7 linked regions of the Homo sapiens genome follow. The protein of the gene in region 7 purifies or fractionates together with the protein of the main gene of each other region. This does not show direct contact. Each region holds a gene or a part of one and is shown on either strand. Other genes may lie near its edges. The genes, in order: SPPL2B, TMEM132A, TMEM131, TGFBR3, UGT3A2, SEMA6A and PTCH1.

Region 1 (3,500 bases), on a different chromosome or scaffold from region 7:
GTTGCAGGCACAGGCCCGGGGAGAATGAGAAAGAGGGGGATGCAGGCACGGGCCCAGGAAGAATGAGGAAGATGGGGACAGAGGCACAGGCCCAGGAAGAATGAGAAAGAGGGGGTTGCAGGCACAGGCCCGGGGAGAATGAGAAAGAGGGGGATGCAGGCACAGGCCCAGCCACCCGAGCCCAGCTCCCGGAGTGGCCAGGGGGTTAGGGTTAGGGTGTTATGGTTACGGTGTTAGAGTTGGAATTAGGGTTAGGGTTGGGGTTGGGGTTAGGGGTCAGGGTCAGGACAGAGGCTAAGTCGGGGTGGGGCTGGAGCCAGAGAGGCCAGCACGGGCCCAACCGAGGCACTTACCGATGGTGCAGGCCACGAAGTATACCCTGGAGGACTGTACCTGGATGTCAAACCTGTGGCAGTAGGCCACCAGCAGCCCTGGGGGAGGCACAGGGCGGAGGCTTACTCGGGCCCGCAGAGCCTCAGAGCAGGGGCTTCCTGGGAGCGGGCGGGCACCTGAGCACCTGTGGGCGCCGTGGGCCTCTCGCTGCCTGGTGGCTGCTGTCATTTCACAGACAGGCCACACGCTCGCTCGGGACAGGGCTGCCATGACTCTCAGTGGGTAAACTGAGACCACAGTGAGAACAAAGTCCAGGCAGACACACCTGGCAGGACCCTGGGGACACTGAGGCTGCGAGGGTACAGTCTCTGCCTTCTGCAGCAACATGAGCTCACTGGGACCCGGGATCCAGGCCCCAGCAAGGACCCCTGCACAACCCCGAGCAGGATGGGGTGAGGCTGTCTGCAATCGGGGGGCCTTCCCCGCTCCCTAGGAACAAAGGGGGTCCCTACCCCACCCAGGCAATGCCCTCGCTGCCCAGGCACCCAGGCCTCAACGGCCCCAACCTGCCCGACTCTGACCCTCAGGGCTTTATCTCCAGCCGACGGTGTGCGGGCCACTCACTCCCAAAGGCAAACCTCAGCCGCCCGGGGCCCTGCCCCACAGCGTGGACCCGTGTGCTCCACCCGCCTCAGTACCTGGCACCAAAATGTCTCCGAAACCCAGGAGGGAGAAGGGCCGGTCACACAGGGCCAGAGGTGAGGAGTTCAGCCTGGGCACCTTCAGGACCATGGGCAGCTGCAAAGACGGGAAGAGGACAATGTCCTCCAGGACCCTCACCCGGCCGCGGGATGCCTCGAGCCCTATCCGCTCCGCGCAACACCTTGACCCATGGCAACCTGAGACCCTGCAGTCAGAAGACACACCTTCTCACGGGTGGCTGAGTCCGAGGGCCCAGTGGCCACCTCCACCATGATGCTGCTCCCACTCTGCACAGAATGGGGTTGAGTGAGGGAGCGTGGTGATGGGGTGGGGGGGCAGGGGAGTGGGGTGATGGGGCGAGGGGGCAGGGTGATGCGATGGGGGGGTGCAAGGGGCAGGGTGATGGGGGGTGATGGGGCAGGGGAGCAGGGTGATGGGGTGGAGGTGAGCGGGGTGATGGGGTGGGGGGCAGGGGAGCACGGTGTGGGGTGGAGGGGGACGAGGGGGCGGGACGAGGGGGCGGGGTGATGGGGGGGGTGATGGGGCGGGGGTTGCGAGGGGGCGGGGGAGCGGGGTGATGGGGTGGAGCAGGGACAGGCAGTCGCCTACCTTGGTCAGGAAGGGCGTGATGAACACGAAGAAGATGTCGTAGAGGAACAGCACCAGCAGCAGCAGCGTGCAGGCCTGCGAAGCCCACGGCTGAGGGCGGCCCCCACCCCGGCCCGTGCCTCCCCCACTCCCATCTCATGAGGCCCAGCGCCTCCTCCTGGGAGGCAGCCTTTAAAGGAACCTGAGCAGAGCGTGCCCAGTGCCAGGGACGCACCACGCAGGAGGAGCTTTGGAAGCAACATCAGGTAGGGATTTACGGGCAAAAGTCAGGCTTTTAGAGTCTCCACGTAACAGGAAGGCGGGGACGGGAGGGCGGAGGCCTGTGCCACGCAGGGCCGGCTCTGGGGATACAGAGGGCCATCCTGGGCATTCAAATGCCGCTTGCTTGGGGTGCTGTGGGGCCCTCACGGGAGTGCAGCCGCCTGGGGCTTGACAACATCCCCGCACTCCCGGTACCACCTGAGGCCAGTTCCTCCAGCCCTATTCAACCACTCTCACCACCACCTCATCTAGACATGAGTTGCCCCTGCCGGGAACCGCCCCGCAGCCACCCACCCAGGCCGCCTCAGCGGGGGCTTTGGGACCCAATCTTCAAGCCCCACCCTTCACAACAGGCCTAGGCGGCCATCCCCAGGGCAGTGAGCAGGAGCACAGACCTGCAAGGACCACAGCCCCACACGGGCCAGGCTAGGATGAAGGGCCCCCACTACCCATGCTGCCCCGCAGCCGTGCCCTCCCTGCACTCACCTTGAAGGTGGGCAGACGGATGGTCTTCAGCATGTAGAGGCAGAAGGCGATGCCCAGGGCATCCTGGAGGACCCAGGCCCACCTGCAAGACAAAGCAGCATCCTCGCCGGGGCAGAGGCTGGCTGACCACCCAGGACGCCGCCTCCCACGAGCCACACAGGGCCCTTGCTCTCAGCCAGCACGCAGCCCCACTGCCCTTCCACCTGCCCAGGGGATGACTCTGAGGACCCCAGACCTGTGGGAGGACCCCTGCTGTTACAACTCCAGCAGGGCTGGCGGCACAGGCCCCACCCCAGGGCCCACCCTGCGGAAGCAGGTAGAGGAGCCCACCACTCGGCAGCCAGGACAGTGGACACAGGCCTGGCCGGCTGCGTCTCCTCGGTCGCTGTCCCCAGATGGTGGGGCCAGGACGGTGGACACGGGCCTGGCCGGCTGCGTCCCCTCAGTCGCTGTCCCCGGATGGTGGGGCCAGGATGGTGGACACGGGCCTGGCCGGCTGCGTCCCCTCAGTCACTGTCCCCGGATGGTGGGCGTCACGCTGTAGGCAGGGGTCACAGGCTGTAGGCAGGGGCCAGGCAGAGGGTGCGTGCGCAGGAGGGCTTGGGCACTGACCCCTCCAAACTGTTTTTATTTTGTTTTTGAGATGGAGTCTCACTCTGTCACCCAGGCTGGAGTTTGGTGGCACGATCTTGACTCGCTGCAACCTCCACCTCCCAGGTTCAAGCAATTCTCCTGCCTCAGCCTCCCAAGTAGCTGGGATTACAGGCACACACCACAATGCCAGGCAAATTTTTTTGTATTTTTAGTAGAGATGGGGTTTTGTCATGTTGGCCAGGCTGGTCTCAAACTCCTGACCTCAAGTGATCTGCCCGCCTCACCTCCCAAAGTGCTGGGATTACAGGCATGAGCCCCCGTGCCCAAACTGTTTATTAAATTAAAACTTGTGCCACACCAGGTTTCCTCAAAGAACCTCTGGGTCCACAGTGGGTGGGGCTGCCATGCGGTTGGTGCCCTGGGGCAAAGCACAGAACTGCCTCCTGCACAAGGCCACGGCCCCTGCAGCCAGCCGCAACTTCGGCTCTCTCCTGGCCCCACGAAGCCCCAGAGTC
Region 2 (3,500 bases), on a different chromosome or scaffold from region 7:
CCTGCTTCCACCAAATGATCCTTTCTCTGGGCCGTTCACATTCCCCCAAAAAGCCCAGCTGCAGTTCTGCGGTTGTGAACTCTTCTTATTCATGCCCTGAGCCTGGGTCAAGGCCATGGACTCAGTAGCCCCAGTTCGAATTCTGGTTCTGATGCTTTTGGGATGGGCAAAACCTTGGGCAAGCCAGTTAACATTCCCCTACCCAAGCCTCAGTTTCTTCACTTGTGAAATAGGAATAATAATGCATCCCTTAGCATTTTTGAAAATAAAATACAGTGCTACATATCAGGCACCCAGGACGGTTCCCAGCACATAGGTTTTTGTTTGATCAAAGGAAGCTTATCATTCAGAGGGTCAAGTGTCTGGTCCTGGGACCTGGAAGTGAATCTCCCGCATGCCACCTCAGTGGCTGTGGAAAGCGGAAGTCTGGGGGAAGCGGGCCCGGGCAGGCAGGGGAGTGAGCCACCTTGCCAGGTGGGAGGTGGTTAAATGGCTTCATGGATCTTAGAGAGGCCAAGAGTGGGTCAGAGTTTGGGGTCTAGAGCGAGGATGCTTGGGTTTAGATCCCAGCCCCGCTACTTTTTGCTGTGTGGTCTTAAGTGAGCTATGTAACCTCTGTGCCTCAGTTTCCTCCTGTGTAAAATGGGGATAATCATGAATGCAGGAAGTGCTGAGGCCATGCCTGGCAGCTAGCAAGCATTTGGCTTCTCTGTCTCCTTTGGCCAGCAGTCCCCTTGAACTGTCTGAGTTCCTATGGGTGGACTTTGTGGTGGAGAATAGCACTGGTGGGGGCGTAGCGGTCACTCGCCCCGTCACGTGGCAGCTGGAGTACCCAGGCCAGGCCCCTGAAGCAGAGAAGGACAAAATGGTGTGGGAAATCCTGGTGTCTGAGCGGGACATCAGAGCCCTTATCCCACTGGCCAAGGTAAGGAGACCTCCATCTCTGCCTGGGAAGGCTGGAGGCCAAGTCCCAGGAGCCCCATGAGCTGAGGGGCCTGGGGCTGAGCCCCTCCTCCACCCCCAGGCTGAGGAGCTGGTGAATACAGCACCACTGACTGGAGTGCCCCAGCATGTCCCCGTGCGCCTTGTCACTGTGGACGGCGGGGGGGCCTTGGTGGAGGTGACAGAGCATGTCGGCTGCGAGTCTGCCAACACACAGGTCCTGCAGGTGAGTGGCAGGTGCCCAGCTCATGTGAGTCTGCATTTGTGTGGGCACAGTTACGCACACACACCTTTCCTCCTTCCTCATGTGGGTCCCCAAGAGAACAGCTTCTTCTTGAGACGAGAAACCTCATGGGAGGAACCACAGCTTCAACTTCTTTTGTTCCAGCCACCTCTCTCCCGAGTCAAGTAACCCTAACAGCCCCCCGACCTTAGACACTTTCACGCTCATTATTGCACTGGCAAGTGCGCTGGCCTGAGAGAGTCGAGAGCACATACTCTGGGATCAGAAAGTTTTAGTTTGAAACACATCTTTGTTGTCAACCAGCTTTGTGATCATGGGCTGGTCTCTTAACCTCTCTGAGCCTCGTTACCTAAACTTTAAAATGAGAACATATCTTCGGGTTGTTGTAAGAATTAAAAGCACTTTAAGACAGTATTTAGCAGATAGCAGGGGCTGAAACAATGGCAGTTATTGCTGTTATAATATGATGTAATAATTATACAATGGTAAAAATTATTATTATTATTATTACCGGTGATTGTGAAGTGAAATAAAAGGGAGGGTGGTAGAGCAACTTCCTCTATCTTGAAGTTCTAAGAGGGGAAGCATGGAGTCTGCATGTATGCAAATCCCAGCCACCTGAAGGGGGAAGGTGCCTTTCCCCACTTGTGGTCCTTTGCTCAAATGTGTGTGGTTCCTGCTGGAGGGCCTTGGTGGGAGATCTGCTTTGTCCCACCTCTGCCTACCTGGCTGTAGCTGGTTGCCAGGTGGCTCCAAGAGCAATGTCAAAGGCCAGCATGAATAAGGAGCCAAAGTTTTGGGTTCACACCCCTGCTCTGCCAGGAGGAAGACTGGTATGCAATGGCCAGTTCCCCTGACTGAGCCCCAGGGAACCTCAAGGAATGGCCCCTACAGTAAAATCTTAAACAAAGAACAGGGGCTTAACCAACAATCCTGCTGCAACATGCATTCCAGTGACACACAGAGCTGAACTCAGTGGGAGCCCGTCCTACGGCCTGAGGTCAGGGCTGCTCTCTTCTGGCCCATGCCTTTTTTTTTTTTTTAATCTATTTATTTTGAAACAGAGTCTCACTCTGTCCCCAGGCTGGAGTGCAATGGTACAGTCCGGCTCACTGCAGTCTCAGCTACCCAGGCTCAAGGGATCCTCCCACCTCAGCCTCCCCAGTAGCTAGGACTACAGGCATGTGCCACCACACCCGGCTGATTTATTGTATTTTTTGTAGAGAGGGAGTTTTGCCATGTTGCCCAGGCTGGTCTCAAACTCCTGGACTCAAGCGATCCACCCACCTCGGCCTCTCAGAGTGCTGGGACTACAGGCATGAGCCACCCACCCGGCCCAGCCTCACACCTGTCTTTAGTGGCTTAGCCCGCCCACCTGCCCTCTGCCCTTCCATAGGTGTCTGAGGCCTGTGATGCCGTGTTCGTGGCTGGCAAGGAGAGCCGGGGCGCCCGGGGGGTGCGAGTGGACTTCTGGTGGCGCCGGCTCCGCGCCTCGCTGCGGCTGACCGTGTGGGCCCCCCTGCTACCGCTGCGTATCGAGCTCACCGACACCACCCTCGAGCAGGTCCGCGGCTGGAGGGTACCTGGCCCTGCTGAAGGGTGAGTGGAGGCCTGAGGAAGCTGGCAGGCCTTGGCGAGTCACACTGGGACGGAGAGGGCGCAGGGGACACAGCCATGGGCCCAAGTCGGGGTCAGAAAAACTGCCCTGTTGCTTGCAGTTCCTTCTGCCCACCTCCACCCTGGGCCGCCCAGCCAATGATCGCTTTCTGTGAAATTGCTGACTTCCGCATCCCTCTCCTCCTTCCCTGCCTCACTTCTCCCGTAGCACCCTCCACTTCCTAATCTACGTCAGTACTGGTTAATGTTGCCTGTCCATCCTTTCCACGCTCCTCCCCCGAGAATGTCAGCCCCTTGAAGCTGCGGTCTGTCTATGCTGGTCGTACCCTCAGAGCCTAAGATGACACAGAGCTCAGGAAATGAACACCCTCGGAGGGGGCTCCCCAAAACCCAGGGAGAGGTGGCCCACGCCTCTGGAATCTAGCTTCCAGGCCCTTCAGAGAGTGAGCGCCCCCAGGGTCCCCGTAAGAGAGCGTCTCCCCTGCGGTCCACTTGGGAGCAAGAGCGGTGATCGAGGCACAGCGCCAGTCGGGAGTGGGCTGGGGCGGCTCGCCTGCAGGTGGAAGGGCCTGACCCCAAGAGGGGCGGATGTCTGCGTTTGAGAAACAGGAGCTGCTGGTGATTAGGAGCCGCCGGGGACGAGCTGCGGGTCTCCAGCAGCTGGGCCCTGGGCAGGCTGGGGCCGCTCAGCGCTGAC
Region 3 (3,500 bases), on a different chromosome or scaffold from region 7:
TTAAATGAGAATTGAACCTCTGAACAGGGCTTTTTTCATAGGCACCCATGCAACTGAGTAGCTGCTATTAAGCTTAAACTTTGGCTTTATGATAAAGCCATCTGTGCTCAGAGTCCACATAGTAAAGCTCAGCTCCTCATCGGATGAGAATATTTGATCAATGAATGTAGGAGGACACTGGCACACTTCACACAGTGTTTATGAGAGTATCTATGCCTGCTGCTCACTGTGGAGAGTTCTAGGGAGGGTCTGGAGCAGCTACGGAGGTGGGGCTGGCCTCAGGGTTCATCCTGTGAGCTCAGTGAGGACTCTCAAGGAATAAAAATCACATAGGCAGCATACTTCATGATACAGTTGTCAAGAAATAGTATTATAGAAGACATTAATGCCACAGTAATTTCTACATTTGTGGTAAAGTGTTCTCTATGCTGCTGAGAGACCACATTCATGCCTACCAGTGTCAGTATCACGAGGTACATTGTCTTCCCTTACAGAGGAGGAGGCGGCTAATTTTTGTATTTTTAGTAGAGACAGGGTTTCACCATGTTGGCCAGGCTGGTCTCAAACTCCTGACCTCAGGTGATCTGGCTGCCTCAGCCTGGCAAAGTGCTGGGATTACCGACGTGAGGCACTGCACCCAGCCAGGATAAGAGCATTTAGGACCCACCCTTCACAGATGTGCCGGAAAATTCTCCACATGGTCTGCAAGGGTGAAGAGCTGCTCTGCAAGGGTGAAGAGCTACTCTTCTCTAGCTCCTGTATTGACCACCCACTTAATCTTTCCCTTCTTGAGATAAATGCGATGTCATTAGTGTTGGTTCTTCTGAGATCGTAGGCTCTAAGATAATTGTTTCTTAAAGAAATATGTAAAATTAAATAACAACAGCAAAGGGAAAGCATCTTTAAGAGCAAATGCTACATTTCTTAAAAGTAGGTTTTTAATATCATGTGAAAATCCCCCCACCATTCACCTCTCCCACTGCCATGCTGGATCCCCACACAAAATACCTCTGAGATTGCTGTGAAAATCAGTCAGGAAGTGTGTGTTATTTAACTTTTAATATTGTTAGAATGCACCTTATATATGTATTAACTCTGCAGTGTTCATTTATCAAGCATCTTTCTCATCAAAAGTTATTCTTCATGATTTTCAACAGAATTTTCTTGAGCTTTTTGACCACTTTATTTGCTATGTATGATACAATGTCATGAAATGCTTAAATGTGGCCCTTGTAATCAGTCTTACGTCAGAACAAATAGTGAAAAATTGAAAGCATCCAGAGATGGCTAACTAGCAAGCAGAGAAATAAGAGGCTGAATGGGAATTTTTAAAATGGAAAGTCTGTGTCTGCCATAGTCAAACACTAGATGTCATACCATTTCCTTGTTCTTTTTTGTCATGAGGTTGGATGACACACATTTGCGGAACTCACATATGAATTCTTCACATAAATGGAAGTGTTCCTAAAGTACTCTAAGAGGATAAACATAAACAGCTTCTTTATTTGCTTTGAAAAGAACCATCTAATGGGTACCTAGATTGGACCCAACTGAATCAATTTCTGTAATTCCTTATTTATTTATTTATTTTTTAATTTTTGTTTTTTTGGGTCAGAGTCTCGCTTTGTTGCCCAGGCTGGAGTGCAATGGCGCAATCTCGGCTCACTGCAGCCTCCACCTCCCAGGCTCAAGCGATTCTCCTGCCTCAGCCTGCCAACTAGCTGAGATTACAGGCACGTGCCACCACACCTGGCTAGTTTTTGTGTTTTTAGTAGAGACAGGGTTTCACCATGTTGGCCAGGTTTGTCTCGAACTCCTGACCTCAGGTGATCTGGCTGCCTCAGCCTGGCAAAGTGCTGGGATTACCGATGTGAGGCACTGCACCCAGCCAGGATTATTCAAAACTGCTATGAAATCTGAAGTTTTTACTTCATCTAAGATGAGGACAATATAATATGATGACAGGAGGGGATTTATCTCCTCTTATACCATGAGTTTTAGGGTTGGCTGGTTTTTGAGAAGAGCTCTGAATTCTTGACTTTTCTTATACCATGCTACTTTATTGGTGATAGAGCAAGACTTTGGCCATACAAGAAATGTTATTTCTTTCTCAGTTCAAGTGTAAATCAGCAGGGCTAAGTGGGGGGTAATTTTGCCTCCAAGGGGATATCTGGCAATGCAGAGAGGCATTTTGGTAGTCACAGCTGCAGGGATGCTACTGCCGTCTAGCAAGTAGAGGTCCGGGATGCTGCTAAACATCCTACAGTACACACAACAGCCTCCGCAACGAAGAATTAATCTGGCCTAAAATGTTAACAGTGCCAAGGATGAGAAATTCTGCTGTAAGTAAAGCCAAAGCCTGTGGCTACAGCAAAGCAGCTTAGGTACAGTGTTTTACCTCCTGAACCATGCTCACCAGCTAATTCCTTATCTGCTTATCTTATTACAGGAAATATAAAACATTTTCCCCCTTTTGTATGAAAAATGTGATGTTTCATTTAAAATGTTATAAAAAGTGTTCTGTTGGCCAATTTGGAAGCTCAACTTTTTTTTTTTTTAAGATTTTGTCAATTTACATAAATTCACTAATTCTCTTTGGTAGTAAAAGGTAACAGAGATTATTTTTTATGCTTCCTTTCAGCATCGAAGGCAAAAAAGCCATCTCAGTTTTCTGGGAAAATAACAGTTAAAGCAAAGGAAAAGAGTTATTCTAAACTTGAAATACCATATCAAGCAGAAGTTTTAGATGGGTGAGTTTCTTTTTAAAATAAATTCTATTACTTTTTACTAATCAGTAAATTATATTTTCCTGCTAAATGACCTGCAGAAATACTAGCCACGTTCACATAAACTTGATGGAATTATTTTTTGAAAGAACAGCCCCAACTATAAAAGAGAAAACCTCCTATATTTTGTTTATATTTTACTTTTTTAGAAGAAAAGGGTAAGTGGGATGATAGGATTTGGGCTTAAATGAAGACTTAATGATTCAAAAATCTGATTTTTTAAATATTATTTAAATCATTTGAACCATTTCCTTTCTGACATTTGTTTGTAATATGTAAGTGATTGTGGCCTATTATTAAAGTATTTTGACACTCGAAACAGAATTCTTTATATTCCTTTATAAATTCATAAACACTTCTAGAATTACAACTTTTTATAAATGGGAAGTGACATGTTCATTTTCTATTGTACTTTAACCAATAGTAGTTTAATACTCAACTTGGCAAAGATTCATTTTAGCAAAGCTCCTTGTAATTCAGTGATAAGCATGATTTTTTTCAAAGTAAAGCTTTTTTTGTTGATATGTCTTTGATTCTAATTGTATGATTCATATAATTCATTAGAGAATGGTTGTTTGTATTAATTTCAGTATTTTGCAAGCTAAATTTTGTTTTAAATCATATAGTCAATCACTAAAATATTATAGTTCTAAATCTTTAATACAATCCCTAATGCTAAATGTAAATTATTACTTACAACAGAAGAACTTGGAT
Region 4 (3,500 bases), on a different chromosome or scaffold from region 7:
AAAGATTTTGACCAACTGAGAAGAAAGATTTCTGGAAAATGCAGCTTAGCTATTGCAACGGTTTATCATTGGGGGAAATCTGTGGAATCTTTCTCCAAGTAACTTCAAAAGTAGGAGAGTTTCTTCAATGTATGGTCTTTCTTAGAGGTGGAGAGAGACTTAATAATTCCTTAAAGGTCCTTTTTGAGTTTTAAATTCTCTTTTTGGATTTTTATTCATGAAGGAGGGAGAAGTTCTCCTACTTCTGGACGAGACTCAAATGAGGCCAGAGAGACCACACATCTGGTTAACCCGGCTGTGCAGAGGTGCTGCTCGTTCATATAGCCCAGGGCCTTAAAATTTTATCCTTATAAGGGCCAGTTGAGCTTGGGCACTGAGAGAAGTCATAATCACCTTGACAGTGCAGCCTTTGTCATCAGGAGACGGAAACGGGGGGTGAGAAAACAGGCCTTCCAATTCCCAAAGACTCACCAATAAAACAAATAAAACCAAAGAGCTCAGGGTCAAAGTACATCCATTTTGTTGAGAACTGACACTTGGCTTTCTTCAGGCCTGGGGTGAAAACCCTCTTCATCTTCAAAGAAATGTTAAGACTAACTTTAAGGGAGCACACAGCCAGGCTCTGGCAAAGGGCAAAGCTTTGTTCTGGAAAACACTCACGGAGTTATAGTAGACCACACCATCAAGGGCTGACCACCGGGGCCGAGTACCGCAGCCATTCAGAGGAGACTCCAAAACAAAGTGTGTGCCATTCATCTTGGCCTTGCAGGTAGGATCCAACAGGGTGACGTCCATCCCCGAGTAGCCACTGGCCTAAAACAACAACCACCAAAGACATGGTTGGAGGCCCACAGGCAGTTCTGTTGTATAATTGACACAATTGACAATTGCCTGGTCTTCCAAGGACAGGCGATGAGAGGCCTGCATCGTGCCCCTTCCCCAAGTATCTCTTCCCAGCTGCCCACCTCTCAACAGCTCAAGGGTAGTATCTGTTGGCCTTGGAAATTCAATAGCAAAATATTGACACACAAGGATCTGGAACCCCCACCCCCTGTCACTGAGAACAACAGGAACCAGGTGAGAATCACAGCCAAGGGGAAGTAGGCCCATCCAACTGAGAAAACAGTATCAAGCCTCCGGAGTTCAAAAATGAAAGAGATAGGGAGAAATTACAGATGCAGACTAGGGCCAGATGGGAAAGGAGGTAGCCTCTCTTCCCTCCTGTAATCAGCTGCACCGACCTGAAAAGAATCTTTTTCTACAGCCACGATCATCTTCTCATTGTCACATTTGACAGACAGGGCAATATCCACGCTCCCTTGCACCTCTTCTGGCTCTCTGAGACCAGGAAACAGTTGTATGCTGGGAATGACAGGGTCCTTTGGCCGAGGGAGCCCATCTTCTCCCTCTTCATTCCAGACTCTCCTGGAAATATCTGGGAAAGGAAACGGAAGGCCTCCATTTTGGCCTTCCCCTCCCCGGATGGGCGGGTTCTGCAGGGCAGGCAGGGCACCAGGGTCCAGCAGGATCCGTAGCTCAGGAGGAATAGTGTGGACTTCCTCATCTCCCATCTCCTCTGCTGGTGAAAGAAGAAGGCAAAACATCAGCAGTGTTTGATGCCAGGCCACAACCAACATCATTACAGGCAGAACAGGAGGAATTAGCATAGAATGGGCAGGTGTAAAATGACTTTTAATAAGCAGTGCATAAAGGTCATTAGAAGTCTAGAAGCCTGAATTCTAGTCCTGGTGTTCTCTCTAACTAGCTCAGTGGCTTTAGGCAAGCGGCTTGCTTCTCTGTGCCTCAAATTTGCTTTTCCAATTTTTTAAATTAAGTGGTTGGAAATGATCAGTGGTTCTTAACTTTGGCTACACATGAAAATCACTTGGGAGCTTTAAAAAATATTCCTACGCCCAGGTTGTACCCCAAACAATTTAAACTCAGACTCTCTGGGGTGGTACCCAATCATTAATATGTTTTAGTCTCTCCATGTGTAACTGCAATGTGCACCTAAGACTGAGAACCAATGGAACAGACAGTTTCTAAGGCTGTCCAAGCTAGAAAAATCTGTGATTTAAGTTACATGATGCAATATTATTCCATTGAAATGCCACTAAAATACTTTCCTTGAATCAAGAGAGTCTTTTGAATAATTTCTCTAATGATGTCTTGAAACAATATTGGTATGTTAAAATTACTTCACCACCTTCTTTTTGACAGCTAAATTTTAACAGGTATCTGGGCACCTTGGCCTTTTGGAACATATTCCCTTGAAAGATAAGAAATAGCTGCATAGATACATTTATTCCTTCAAAGGGAGAGACGTATTTCCATACAATCAATACTCAATATTTTGTCGTATTTCTAACAACTAAAAAAATAATAATTTCCCCAGTATTCTTTATATCTACTATCTAAGGCCAACTGATGTACACTTGAGGTCAAATCCATCTCAGTGGAAGCTGGAAGTGAAGATGATAGTTGGACATTATCTCTCCTTTAATAATATTCTTTGGAAAGGACGCTAGAGCTGTAAGGGTCCAAAATAAGTCATAGCTTTGTAGGGTTTTTAATTTGTACTTTCACGAAAACCTTCACAACAACCCTGTAAGGTCTGTCCTATTATTTTCCCCTTATTACTGAAGAAAAATCTGTGGCTCAGAGGTGAAGCAACTTCTCCCCAAACAGTGACTAAATGGTAGAGCTGGGGCTTGAACCTGTACTCCTAATCCTTATTCTATTGGCATTTCACTCAGTGGTGGTACCATGAGCTGAGGAACAGGTCTAGGGATCACAAAACTAGGGTTTCAAGTCATGCTAGCTAGAAGACTCCAGAAAACCTCAAGAATTTGTTGACCCTCTGCTTTCCACCCCATTCAGCTGGGGTAGTAACTCCTGCCATCCTCTGGGTATGAACACTCAAGTATGAGTCCTCGTGACTATTTTCCTAAAAGATACAGCCTTTTACCATGAACTTCTTTCCTGCAGTCTTAACTCTTCTGTATTCTCAGCCATAAGTGGTCATTAGGTGTCTCGGAGAGAAGAACCTAATGTAATCACACTAAAGATAACCTATAACAAAGTTCTCTGAATATGCATTCAACTCTATGTCACTGAAAATCTGTATTACAGTTTCCTCAAAATCTCTGTCTAGGTAATTTTAAGCCTTCTGATAAAAAGTAGTCAAATTATTAAAATGTACAAGAGAAAAACAGCAACATATAAGCTGAAATGACAGTTCCTCACTGGAAAAGCTTCATTTGGGGGGTATTTTTTACATAACTTAAAAAACTTCTAACTTACCATTATTTTCAAGCCGAAGATGAAATCTATTAGCCACAGGAGCCATTGTGTATGAAGTTATTGGACTATAGCCATTGTCCAAAGCCCACTTCACCAGATTCCCTTGGGTTGAAGGAATGTCATCTCTTATTGATTTGGTCATTGTCATAGATCTTTCACTCTCTTTTCCAAAGCCAATACTGTTAGGAGCCTGAAGA
Region 5 (3,996 bases), on a different chromosome or scaffold from region 7:
GAGAGTGCACCACTGCACTCTAGCCTGGGTGACAGAGCGAGACTCTGTCTCAAAAAAAAAAAAAATCTATCAATATAATTGTTGAATAAATAAAAATCTTGGAGTTTGATAACAAATCCTTTATTTTGCTAATGCATTATGAAAAGTACAAGAATAAGACGAACTGGAGCCTTGTGATGTCTGGTAAACCTCGCCCTTCCCACACTTTTCTCTCTCTCTCTCTCTCTCTCTCTCTCTCTCTCTCTCTCTCTCTCTCCTCTTTCTCCACAATAGGCATGGCTAGGTGAGGGATGCACAAATGCATAAGAATGTAATGCTTTAAATTCCAATGAGAAAAAATAACCCCTGTAGACTGAAGAAGGCAGGAATAGAACACGCAGAATTCAAGGACCCACTGCAACCAAGGATTTCTCTGCTTATTTAGAGTTGCACTGAAAGCCTTTCCTAAAGGAAGTCTTAGTTTGAGGATAGAGAGTAAAGGGGACTACCGGACCTGGTGATCCCTGACCTCACTGGGGCTGACATTGCACGGAGGCAGAATTACAAGCTGTCATCAGCATGTGCTCTTGGAAATTATGGAAAGATTCACCAGTCCTATTTCAGGATACTCATTCAGAATGATAGTCTCAGCTTTTGAATTTCAGTCCTCCAGGGACAGACCTGGACTTCCAGAGGTAGGACTCTAGCCTCTTTTCAGGAATGTTACCTTCTAAAGAGACACTAAGAGATAGATTCCAGGGATGGTAGATTGATTTCCCTTGGGGATTCCCTTCCAGGGAGGTCTTGGGCTTGGAACATCAGCTCAAGATTTTAAGCAAGTCTCTCAGGAAATAGATCGCGGGGCTGGCAGTATGAGGTAATAGAGGCAGTTAGAAGGGAACTAGAGTAGGTAAATTCACACAGCCTTTGCAAAAGAGAGGTGGGTCCCATGGAGATAGAGCTTTCATCAGCTCGATTTACTGAGGTCCCTGCCATTCCTCACTCACAGTAAGGATTTTCCAGGCAGGAGGGCTGTGATCACAAGGGCAGAGCAGGGTTAAGTATGGGCTCACCGACCCCTCCTACTGACTGCTGGTAGTTTGGTAGAGCGAGGATAGATTATCCAATGGAGCACGAGGGAGGAGGGGCAGAGGGCAAGAGGGGATGGACAGAAGAGAAGACTGGCAGGATCCTTACTCCTACCTCTACCCACAGCCAGTGCCTTTGGCGCACTGAGGTGCACAGGGTCCCTTAGCCGGGCGCAGGGCGCGCAGCCCAGGCTGAGATCCGCGGCTTCCGTAGAAGTGAGCATGGCTGGGCAGCGAGTGCTTCTTCTAGTGGGCTTCCTTCTCCCTGGGGTCCTGCTCTCAGAGGCTGCCAAAATCCTGACAATATCTACAGTAGGTGAGTGCTTGGCCGGAGAATTCCCAGACAGGCGCGTCCCGGATACTCGCACTGCCAGGGCTCCAGAGAACAGCGCTTGATCAGAGTCATCCACGTGATTTTCCAGGCTGGGCTTGCGGACCCGGCTGGAGGAGGGAGAAGCCCATTCAGCTGTGGGGCAGAGAGGGGCCTCTATTGCTGAGGTGGGGAAGAAAGTTTTGGAGAAAAGAGATTCTCCTTTACTGTCTTCTTCCTGTTCAGGACGCGCCCCCATCCCGCAGGGCTGGGGCCAGAAATTTGAGACTCATCCCAGAGCTTGAGTTCCTGGGCTGCCTTCTCCAGGGCGCAGTGGGACTTTCAGAGGCTCACCTTAAGCTCCGGAGGGTGCGTGTGTGTGGGTGCACAGTAGCTTCCAGTAGAAACAGTGGTGAGCGTTTTCAGGCTCTTGGAGACCAGGGAAAGGCCCTCCTGAGGGCAGCACTGCAAATGTTGTGAAGCTGCATCCGGAGCCAGGGTGGCGCAGGCAGGTATTTCATGGCTGCAATGCCAGTGGAGTGTTTTCCACCAGGGGAAACCTGGAGAACTGCCGAGGGCTGAGGAGAAGATCCAGGTCATTCGCATCTTTTGGAGTATCTTTCCTTTTACCTGTGCCGCTGACCGTTATTTGAGGGATTCATGGGACTGTTAATTCTGCATTTTGGGTCTCAGTTTTACTTCTTTTACTTTTACCCCAAAGGGAATAGAAGATAAAAGAGAAACATATATGAACATAAAGGGATCATCTCAGGATCGAGCTTCCCCAAGACTTTATTTCAACCCATAGTGGGTTCTAATGGATTCCTTTTAGATCATGGAGAATTAGGGCTCGTAGGGCTGGGAAGAACCACAGATCATCTAATTTAGTGCCCATTTTCATTTCCTGAGAGGGCAATTGAAGGATGGGGAGTGAGATGCCTTCCTTAAGAGCACTTGTGGCCTCCCTGATGTCCCATGAGGAATTAACTCAGGGTTTTCTTACTGCAAGACCATGCTCACCACAACTTCCACTCTGAAGCCCTTTTCACTGGGGATTTTCAAAAATCACTGTTTAAGAAACAGTGCAAGTCCATTTGAAGACTTTTTCCCCCTCTTTCTGAGTGTTAGTAGCAGTGAAGCAACAGAGCTTCTTAACTTCTTGAAAGTACACAGCCCTCCTTCCTCAGGCTCCAAGAAGGAGTTGATGTCATTTCTGAGGTGCTAGAATGCTGATTTTTGCCCCAGAAAGCCACCTGACTCCCCAAGATCCACCGCTAACAGCTGTTTCTGTGGGGACCCCTTCTTCCCAGCTCCCTGTTCTTACGTGGATTAAAATGTGAGCAAGACCTGTTGCAGATTTGTACTTTATACGTCCCTTGTTGCTCCAGACTATTCAAGCCTGGGTATAAGTAAACTGAGTCATTCAGAGAGCTGAACACTACTTCTCTACTCCCTTCCACCCCCACCCCGCAGGCTTTTGGTATTTACTATTACATTACCTTCTCTTCTGATCTTCCTTTCTCTGCTGCTGAGAACCTTAGATTCAAGCAAAGGCTGTGTATTAGAACATGTACTGAGAAGACATTGATTTCGTGGAACTTGTACCTCTTTTGAGGATCAAGCTTCTCTTTCCTTAGGATGGATGTTTCTGGAATCAATGATTCCCTAGTCTCTCGTGCAACCAGGATCCAGCAGGCCCACCCCAAGCGCCCCACAGTTGTCCTCAAATGTCTTAATTAGAACTTGATCATTGTGTGGCCTAAATTAAGTACATCCTTTCAAAATACATTGGAATCTTAAGGATTTGGATTCTAAGTAGTGGCCCCTCATTCCTTCTGTTCCAGTGATGATTTCTTGGACCAATCTCTTAAGGTTTCTATCTCCTACAGCAGCAGAAATGTCCAAAGAGCAGGATCCCAGAAACAGCTCTCATTGTTTTTTAGGAACTATTCACACTCATATGTACAACACCATACCTGTATTTCCACCAGTGCCGTGATTTCTTTTGGACTCTGTGTCTCCATAAGGCCTTAGTTAAAATATACATGTACCTCAGGATGAGGAACTCCCATGGCTAAGCACATAGTAGCTCATTACACTGACATGGATACCGTGATTCACAAGAGGCAATCTCTCACGGACCAGAGCCACAGGTAAAAATTTGGGCGGCCATGCTCTGGGTGAGTGGGCTGGGTTTTACCCAGAGGGACATGAGGAGACTGGCAAAACTCATCTTCCTCCAATCACTATCCACTTCTGTTTCCTTACCTTTCCTCTCCTGGATTGATCACTACTGACTTCAGACACTGTATTCTCATCATTCCAGAACTGAAGTTGTGCATTGTTCCTAGGTGGAAGCCATTATCTACTGATGGACCGGGTTTCTCAGATTCTTCAAGATCACGGTCATAATGTCACCATGCTTAACCACAAAAGAGGTCCTTTTATGCCAGGTATCTTTTCTCACTTTTCTTGATTTCTCCTACTCCAAGCAAAGAGCAAAATGCTGTTTGCATAGAAAGGCTTAGCAAAATGTTTTTTAAAAATCTAATTCAATTGGAAGGATGAAAAGCTTGTGTGTGTGTGTATGTAAAGTGCCAAAAAACTTCTTAGTCTCTA
Region 6 (3,500 bases), on a different chromosome or scaffold from region 7:
TGCATTATTTTAATTGAAAATTATAAATAGTAAACCTATTCTTCCTAACTTATAGGATTACTGGGAAAATAATACGAAATCATGAATGTGAATGTATTTAGTGAAATATTACACGCATTGTGGAAATTTGGGAAGTTTGATGTTAACCCCCTCTTTCCCACTCTGGACCCTGGATATAACAGAGATCCTACTTCATCTTCTAAATTATTTTTGGTAGAATATACACTGTTCATGTAGTTTTAATGTAAATCACATTATGCAACTAAATAATATGTTCAAATTCATTGAAATTGTACAGTTCACCTAGAGCATGGATAGCAACTTTATTAATTAGAACACCTACCATGTCAAGGAAACATTGCTTTCAACATTATCATTAAATCAGGCAAGGTCATAGGAGTACCATTCTGCCAGGAATTAGTTTAAAAGTAAGATAATTGTTTTTGCTCAGTTAAATTCTGAAATAGTTCAAATCAGTGTAACGATTAATATGTCAGGGTGAACCAGGACTAGTAGAAGTTTCCATCTTTGTCATAACAAGGCCGAATTCGTTAGATCTTGTGGCGTGAGGTTAATAAATGTGAAGGGACCGTTGGAGGGAAGGTAGTGGACAACTCTAGAGGCATTGCGGAGGTCATGCTTTTTTGACAGACAATGCACGTGGATTTGTTTTGCCATTTACCAACAGTGTGACTTTATGCCAGTTTCCTTTCTCCTTCAGTTTTCATTTGCAAAGTGCTAGTATGATGATAATGTTATGGTTTTGAGAAGAATAAATGTGCTAACATCTGTAAAATGCATGTCACAATGCCGGGCACACAACAAGCAGTCATTCAACATAAGGTATTATTTTTACTTGAGTAACAGTAGTTACGAAAAATGTCCTAGGAATGGATTTTGAAAAAGCAGATAGTACTTTTATTCTGGGGGGCAGGGGAAATAGTAGAAAAGGAAATGGCTACGAATCTGTAATATAAAGAGATGATGCAAAAGAAAACAACCTTTGGACTAGAAACAAACATTCATACCATAAACAGGCCATAATGTCATGGGTTTTAAGTTGAGAAGCATGTGAATACATCACTTGCAGGGAAACAGGAAACAGGGAAACTTTGGAATTTGAAATATCACACCCAAAACATGGAAGGAAAAAACCACTATATATAAAAAATAATAATAATAACAAGCAGAGCCTTATATCAAATAGGAGCCCAAGGGATAGTTTTTGAAAAATGATAGCTATCACTTATTAACATTTTAATAATAAAATGTACACTCTGCACCTACATTTAGAATCTGAAAGCAACTCATAATGACAATTTTAGGGATGAGTTGAATTCCCAAGGACCACACCTGTCTTAGGAGAGAAACTCGGCTGCTGATTGGAACCCTTGAGGAGGTTGTGGCTAGGACTTCTGCAAGAGGGTCTTCAGGTTGGGCATGCATCTGCCAGGTCACTCTTCCCTGGCCAAGCTTGAAATCAATTTGGGAGCAAAAGCAAACTACTGCCTTCCACACCAAAGGTAGGAAATAATTGGCTGACCCCAGTAGAGATAGCAGTTATTCTGCTGACAGACACACTACTACAAAACCTGAAATTTGATTCAAATGATAGTCATACAAGTTCTTATCAGTGAGAAAAATCTGACTTCTAAAAGGCACAGCAGAAGGGGAAATAAATTGATGTTATCACCACAATTCCCTGCTACCATTATGTTTTCCAGGAATGCCTCCATGGCTTAGAGTTACAGTTATTTTCAACTAGGAAATAAAATGTTCTCAAACTCTGTAAGTGGAAACAGAATGGAAAGAGTGTGAGATAAATCAGTAATTAACATGCTGCAAGGACCGAAGTTTCAGATCCTTCTTAGCAGCCAGTATGGTGACTTTTGCTTAGAAAGCATTGTTAGTAATAGATACTTCCTCATGCAGCCTTTAGACTTGAAGCTTTCTTTTAATATTCCTAGGTGCTTTCTAGGAATTTCCAACTAACCTATAATTGTCATCTGTAGAACATTAAATTCAAAGAATCCATGCCAATTAAAAAAATTTAGCAGAAGAAGCTCTAAAGTTGGTGCTGTTTACGCCTTTCTTAGCCCTTCTGCCCCTCTACGCTTCAAAGACCAGCCTTTGGCCATGATTTGATTAGAAGCATTTATAGAACAGAACAGGATCTGGCATTAAATACAATGAAAACATGCCATTGGAAAATAAACATTGTTAGAGACTACGAAGAAATAAAGATTGTATTAATTATGTTTTAATGTTCTATGAGGGTTTTACAGACAAGCTGTGATAGATCCATTCTTCTTTCCCTGTTCCTATTCCTGATTCGTTTTTTAAAGAAAAGTATTCAGTCTTTTCATTAATATTGCAGCGACTTCAGCACTTCCCCGCCCCTCCCCCAGACTCCTACTGTCCTTGAATGAGGAAACTGAGAGAATACTGATTGAGCTGGTGAATGGAAACGTTCCTTTCCTGAAAATGGAATGCTTTACAAAAAATTGCATTCCACAAAAAAACACTCAAAACAATTCAACAACTGTCCCTCCTCCTTTCTACCCAGAGAGCCACTTGATTTCATTCACATATTTTGGTTTTTCAATGTATTTGTTCTTAGGCCTAAAATACCCAGGTGGAAAACCATTCTATTAAGCCTTTCACTATTTTAAAAACATGAGCATCTGAGTTTCTAAGAACATTCTCATTCCTGCATAGTGAGCGATAAATAGAAACCAAATTGTTTGTAGCATTCTAAACTCAAGTATATTGGCAGAATGGCAGTGGAGTTGATTTTTATAAGAATACTTGTTAATGGTTTTCGAGACGGATTCTGTGCTAATTCTTCTTGTATCATGAATGATGGCCCTAGCTAGACACTGTCGCTGGGATCTTCATCTGTTAATCATGGAGGCTGCTTTCTTATTCGGTTGCCATAGTTTCAGTGCCTCACATAGTGTTGGGGTGTCTTGGGAAAGGTTTGAGATATACTAGGGCTTGCAAGCCTTGCAGTTATTTTGACAGTTGTGCTCTGAAAGACTGAAAACCGCTTCTCGTATAATTCAGTGTTGGATTAAAAGAGGCAACTTCTGAGAGTGTCTCCCTGGACCTTGTTATGTGCACATCCAGCTGGTATTTAATCCAGGATTTGCCTCTTGCTCAGTCTTGCTGGCAAAAAAAATAAATAAATAAAAATACAGTACAGAGGCTGATGTCACTTTCATATTTCAACAAGAAAGCAAAGGGACGCAAACTCTTCATTAAGACTATTCACAAATGTGGAGGTAAATGAGGCCATTCATGACTTTGCTTAAAATTTCTGCTCCATAATTTGGCTTTGGCTTTGCAGATTACTAAATAAATAAAATGACATCATGATTGCTGTGTGCCGTGTGTTATTTTGGCAATGGAAACATGTAGAGCTTTACTTCAGGTTTAACCTTTCCTTTTTTACACTTGACACTCATTGCTAAGGAGCTAGAGACCATTTTACTGTATTT
Region 7 (3,500 bases):
AATATATGCTAGATGAGAAAGAGTCCGTGTGTGTGCATGCGCGTGTGTGTGCGTGTGTAGGAATTGGTGATAAGAATTATTGTATTCTGTTGTTAAAATGTCCATATAATGATTGCCTTTTAATAAACTGTCAATTATATGTTAAGATACCAGCTTGAGTTTTAGGGTTATAGTGTTTGCTAATCAAAATTGTCAAATCAGTTTCACATATGTGCGGAGTAATGAGGTTTGATAGAGAATATGTTGACTGATGTAGTGGACATCTGCTGTTGCAGAAACACATGACCATGGCAGCAAGGTGGGGGAGAAACTAATTGTCATTGTATAAAAATAGAAGCGTTCATTCTGCACATGTTCTCAGTACCTACTCTGCACCACCATTGCAGAAAGCTCTCCAGAGAGATGTTGGTGAAAAGCCACAGTCTCTGCCCTCAGGGGAACTCCATCCAAACATTCAGCAGGTACACGGACTGGTGTGTGGGTAGTTAACATGAAGGACAGCAGTGCCAAGATGGCAGGAAAATCGGGGACATCTTCCAGGATGGCCTCAAGGGTGGAGGCCTGAGCTAGGCACAGGGGCTGGAGGGGAGAGGGTAGGGGGCATTCAGGGCAGAAGGAACAGCATAGGCAAAGGCTCAGAGAACAGGAATGTGGCCTCCTGGAGGGCAGCCTCCCTTTGTGGGTCGTTGAGGTTGGGTGGGAGCCTGGAAGCTGGGCTCGTCCCTCAGGGCCATTTCACAGAAGTCTCCCTGCTTGGCTGGGGGCTGTCAGCTCTTCCTACTAGCCATCCCTGTCTCACGAGTGTGCTCACGTGTTGGCCTCTAGTGTTTTCCCTGGAGCCACGAATGCTTCACCTGGATCTCACCTTTCTGGGCACAGACTGGTGTTATTTTTAATCTTGCCTGTTTCTTTGTTGGTATTTCCTTTTTGTTAAGCAGTTTTAACCCATCTCCCTCAGTATCTATTTCTTTTCATATCAGCCCCCTCACTGCAGCCCTCCCTCAGAACAAGTTTCTTGTCAAGCTTCTCCAGCGATAGAACATTCATTTATTTCTTTGAGCTTTTTGTTTTTTCTAAAAGCTTGCCCAGCTCCTGGCCTCCTTTTCTGCAGAGGGCAGCAGCCTTGTAATGAATCCATATTGCTTTGGTGTTTGGATGTTAACATTGCTGCAGGCCAGCGTCAAGGAAGAAGGAGGCAAGTTGTGACTTTGACTTTTTTTTTTTTTTAAGAAAAATAGAAGAAATTGTTTTTTAAAATACATGCTTGGTATGTGTAAGTGCTTTCAAGTTTGTACCTTGCTAGTGTTAATGCTTTCAGTGTTCTTGAACTCAGGCAATCAGTTGTAGGAGATAACTGAGTTTCACCACTCCTTCAATTTGGAGCAAGGTCCCTCAACCTCAGGACTATTGACATTGGGGCTGGATCATCCTCTGTTGTTGGGGGCTGTTCTGTGCACTATAAGATGTTTAGCAGCATCCTGGTTTCTACCTACTAGATGCCAGTAGCACCCTCCCAGTTGTGACAACCAGAATGTTTCCAGTCATTGCCAGATGTCACTGGGGGAGAGGGTGTCCCAAATCATCACGATTGAGACCCACTGGTTTAGATGATAAAAAGATTTTGATTGGAAGACTCATGCTGTGCAGATGGAAGACGTTTATTATGATGGAGTTGTGGCTACAATGCATTGCAGAGATGCAAGAGTATTAATCTTCTTTAAGATAACTCCCCCATCCCATTCCTGTATTTATAGACCCAGATAACTATTTTTCTTAGAATGACATTAAATGTCAAAGAAAAACACCGTGATGGGTCGAAAGAGGAAAGAGGCCATGGAAGAAAGAAATAATTTATATTTGGGTACCTTTTGGTGGGGGGTATCTAAATTTGCAGAAAGACTGGTTGCACCTCAACCCCAGTAGCCTGAAGGTTTTTAGCATGGTTGACTTTCTGAAAAGCTTTAATAGAAGACACCACTGCCTTTGTGCATATTGAAATAACAGCTCCTTCAGAAGCCCGGCTAGTGTGTGAACTCCTTGGTGGTCTCATTCTCCTCCAGATGTTTCTGTCACAAACCACTCCCCCTTGTCCCCCCAGGAGCCCTTGTGGAGCAGAACCAAGGGACAGCAAGGGACCAGTCCCAGCCAGAAGGGCAGAATGGATTCTGCTGTCACTGCCCTTCCACAGTGAGCACCTGGTTTCTTTTCTCTGGGGTTGCCATTGTGGGGGCATTTCACAAGGGACAGGAAGAAAAATGCAGCTCCTTTCTGCTCCCTGGACCCCCATACATGGTTTAGAAGGGAGAATATGTTTATAGGTATTTATTAGTTTCTACTACTGGGTATGCACATTTAGGTGGAAGCAGTTGTGATATTTCTTTCATATTTGGAGAAAAACGATTGGAAATGAGAAGCCACCAATGATTGTTTAAAAAAGAACAAATAGCCCTCAGGTGTCTTCTACACAGGGCAGTTGACCCTGCGAATCCTCCCTATCTCTTTGCTGTCTGCCATTCTTGACCCTTCACCAAGTTGAGAGGACAGGTTGGGTAATGGGGTGTTTCAGATACATAGGATGCCGCTCAGAGGTTCCAGAAGATGACAGCTTCCAGATGTATGAACAGCCTGATCCGTGTGTTTAGATTATGCACCACAGCTGATGCCGAGATTAATGCTGGCTGGACAAGCCATGGGAGATTTGTCTGGTTTCCACAATGCCATGTTTATGTTTCATTTGAGTTTCTCCTTCAAAGCTGACCTGCCTGTGACCCTGGGCTCTGTCCACTCGGGCAAGCTGAAACTCGGGCAAGCTGAAACTCGTCTGCCCTGTTCTCCTGCTTGTATTGGGGTAGGGGAGAGTCACAATTGGGCGGAGAAAGGGGCGCTTTGGTGGCCGCCTTCTGCCTCACCATGCCAGCTATCTGCCCAGATTTAGCCCCTGATGAGTGTTCAGTTCTCCTCGGGGATGTGTTTCACTGTAAAAGGTTTTTTGGCTTTTAAAACAAATATGGAAATATTATAAAATAACTGTAAAGGGGACCAGATTTAATAGAAGCCACTTTGCATAAATGTAGTATTTTAACTTCTGGCACTCTTTTGACACTATTTAGGGGGAGAAAAAGTTGAGGGAATTTCAGCTATGTCAGACACCCCCACATAATAACCATGGCTGTGTCATCCTATTATAATACTATTAATGTTTCCTGTGCCCCTCGCTGGCTCCCAGAACCTCTGCTGCCTCCTCCCTCTCTCCCCTGCCCCCTTCCCTCCTGCCCCTTCTCCCGCCCACCCACTCTAACCTGCCCACGTCATTTCCTTCCAAGTGGATCTCTGCAGTTACTAGTGTGAACTCTGAAATGGTAGTAAGTCTGGCTAATCACAACCTAAGAGGAGGGAATGAGAACATTTATTATTTCAAGCCAGCTGTGGGAGATACTAGATACAGAGCTGCCATTTGCATCCTTGGCATTCTTATTTTGGTTAGGGTTGGTTCCAAGACC

The links.
Region 1: the proteins of PTCH1 (region 7) and SPPL2B purify together in Homo sapiens (affinity purification with mass spectrometry; 3 studies listed by BioGRID and IntAct, with this or other methods). This does not show direct contact.
Region 2: the proteins of PTCH1 (region 7) and TMEM132A purify together in Homo sapiens (affinity purification with mass spectrometry; 3 studies listed by BioGRID and IntAct, with this or other methods). This does not show direct contact.
Region 3: the proteins of PTCH1 (region 7) and TMEM131 purify together in Homo sapiens (affinity purification with mass spectrometry; 3 studies listed by BioGRID and IntAct, with this or other methods). This does not show direct contact.
Region 4: the proteins of PTCH1 (region 7) and TGFBR3 purify together in Homo sapiens (affinity purification with mass spectrometry; 3 studies listed by BioGRID and IntAct, with this or other methods). This does not show direct contact.
Region 5: the proteins of PTCH1 (region 7) and UGT3A2 purify together in Homo sapiens (affinity purification with mass spectrometry; 3 studies listed by BioGRID and IntAct, with this or other methods). This does not show direct contact.
Region 6: the proteins of PTCH1 (region 7) and SEMA6A purify together in Homo sapiens (affinity purification with mass spectrometry; 3 studies listed by BioGRID and IntAct, with this or other methods). This does not show direct contact.

The regions. Positions count from the first base shown.
Region 1 is NC_000019.10:2,342,184-2,345,683, reverse strand, and holds part of SPPL2B (signal peptide peptidase-like 2B isoform 2 precursor), read right to left. Parts: intron 2,474-3,500; coding exon 2,392-2,473; intron 1,720-2,391; coding exon 1,645-1,719; intron 1,323-1,644; coding exon 1,260-1,322; intron 1,132-1,259; coding exon 1,032-1,131; intron 432-1,031; coding exon 354-431; intron 1-353. UniProt on the Homo sapiens protein: Intramembrane-cleaving aspartic protease (I-CLiP) that cleaves type II membrane signal peptides in the hydrophobic plane of the membrane. Functions in ITM2B and TNF processing.
Region 2 is NC_000011.10:60,930,960-60,934,459, forward strand, and holds part of TMEM132A (transmembrane protein 132A isoform b precursor), read left to right. Parts: intron 1-726; coding exon of another isoform or gene 727-729; coding exon 730-925; intron 926-1,024; coding exon 1,025-1,168; intron 1,169-2,582; coding exon 2,583-2,785; intron 2,786-3,500. UniProt on the Homo sapiens protein: May play a role in embryonic and postnatal development of the brain. Increased resistance to cell death induced by serum starvation in cultured cells. Regulates cAMP-induced GFAP gene expression via STAT3 phosphorylation.
Region 3 is NC_000002.12:97,814,449-97,817,948, reverse strand, and holds part of TMEM131 (transmembrane protein 131 precursor), read left to right. Parts: intron 1-2,641; coding exon 2,642-2,750; intron 2,751-3,500.
Region 4 is NC_000001.11:91,718,652-91,722,151, forward strand, and holds part of TGFBR3 (transforming growth factor beta receptor type 3 isoform a precursor), read right to left. Parts: intron 3,494-3,500; coding exon 3,304-3,493; intron 1,580-3,303; coding exon 1,242-1,579; intron 814-1,241; coding exon 661-813; intron 1-660. UniProt on the Homo sapiens protein: Cell surface receptor that regulates diverse cellular processes including cell proliferation, differentiation, migration, and apoptosis.
Region 5 is NC_000005.10:36,064,083-36,068,078, reverse strand, and holds the start of UGT3A2 (UDP-glucuronosyltransferase 3A2 isoform 1 precursor), read left to right. Parts: upstream 1-1,196; 5' UTR 1,197-1,289; coding exon 1,290-1,383; intron 1,384-3,728; coding exon 3,729-3,830; intron 3,831-3,996. UniProt on the Homo sapiens protein: UDP-glucuronosyltransferases catalyze phase II biotransformation reactions in which lipophilic substrates are conjugated with glucuronic acid to increase water solubility and enhance excretion.
Region 6 is NC_000005.10:116,564,824-116,568,323, reverse strand, and holds part of SEMA6A (semaphorin-6A isoform 2 precursor), read left to right. Parts: intron 1-3,500. UniProt on the Homo sapiens protein: Cell surface receptor for PLXNA2 that plays an important role in cell-cell signaling. Required for normal granule cell migration in the developing cerebellum.
Region 7 is NC_000009.12:95,499,267-95,502,766, reverse strand, and holds part of PTCH1 (protein patched homolog 1), read left to right. Parts: intron 1-3,500.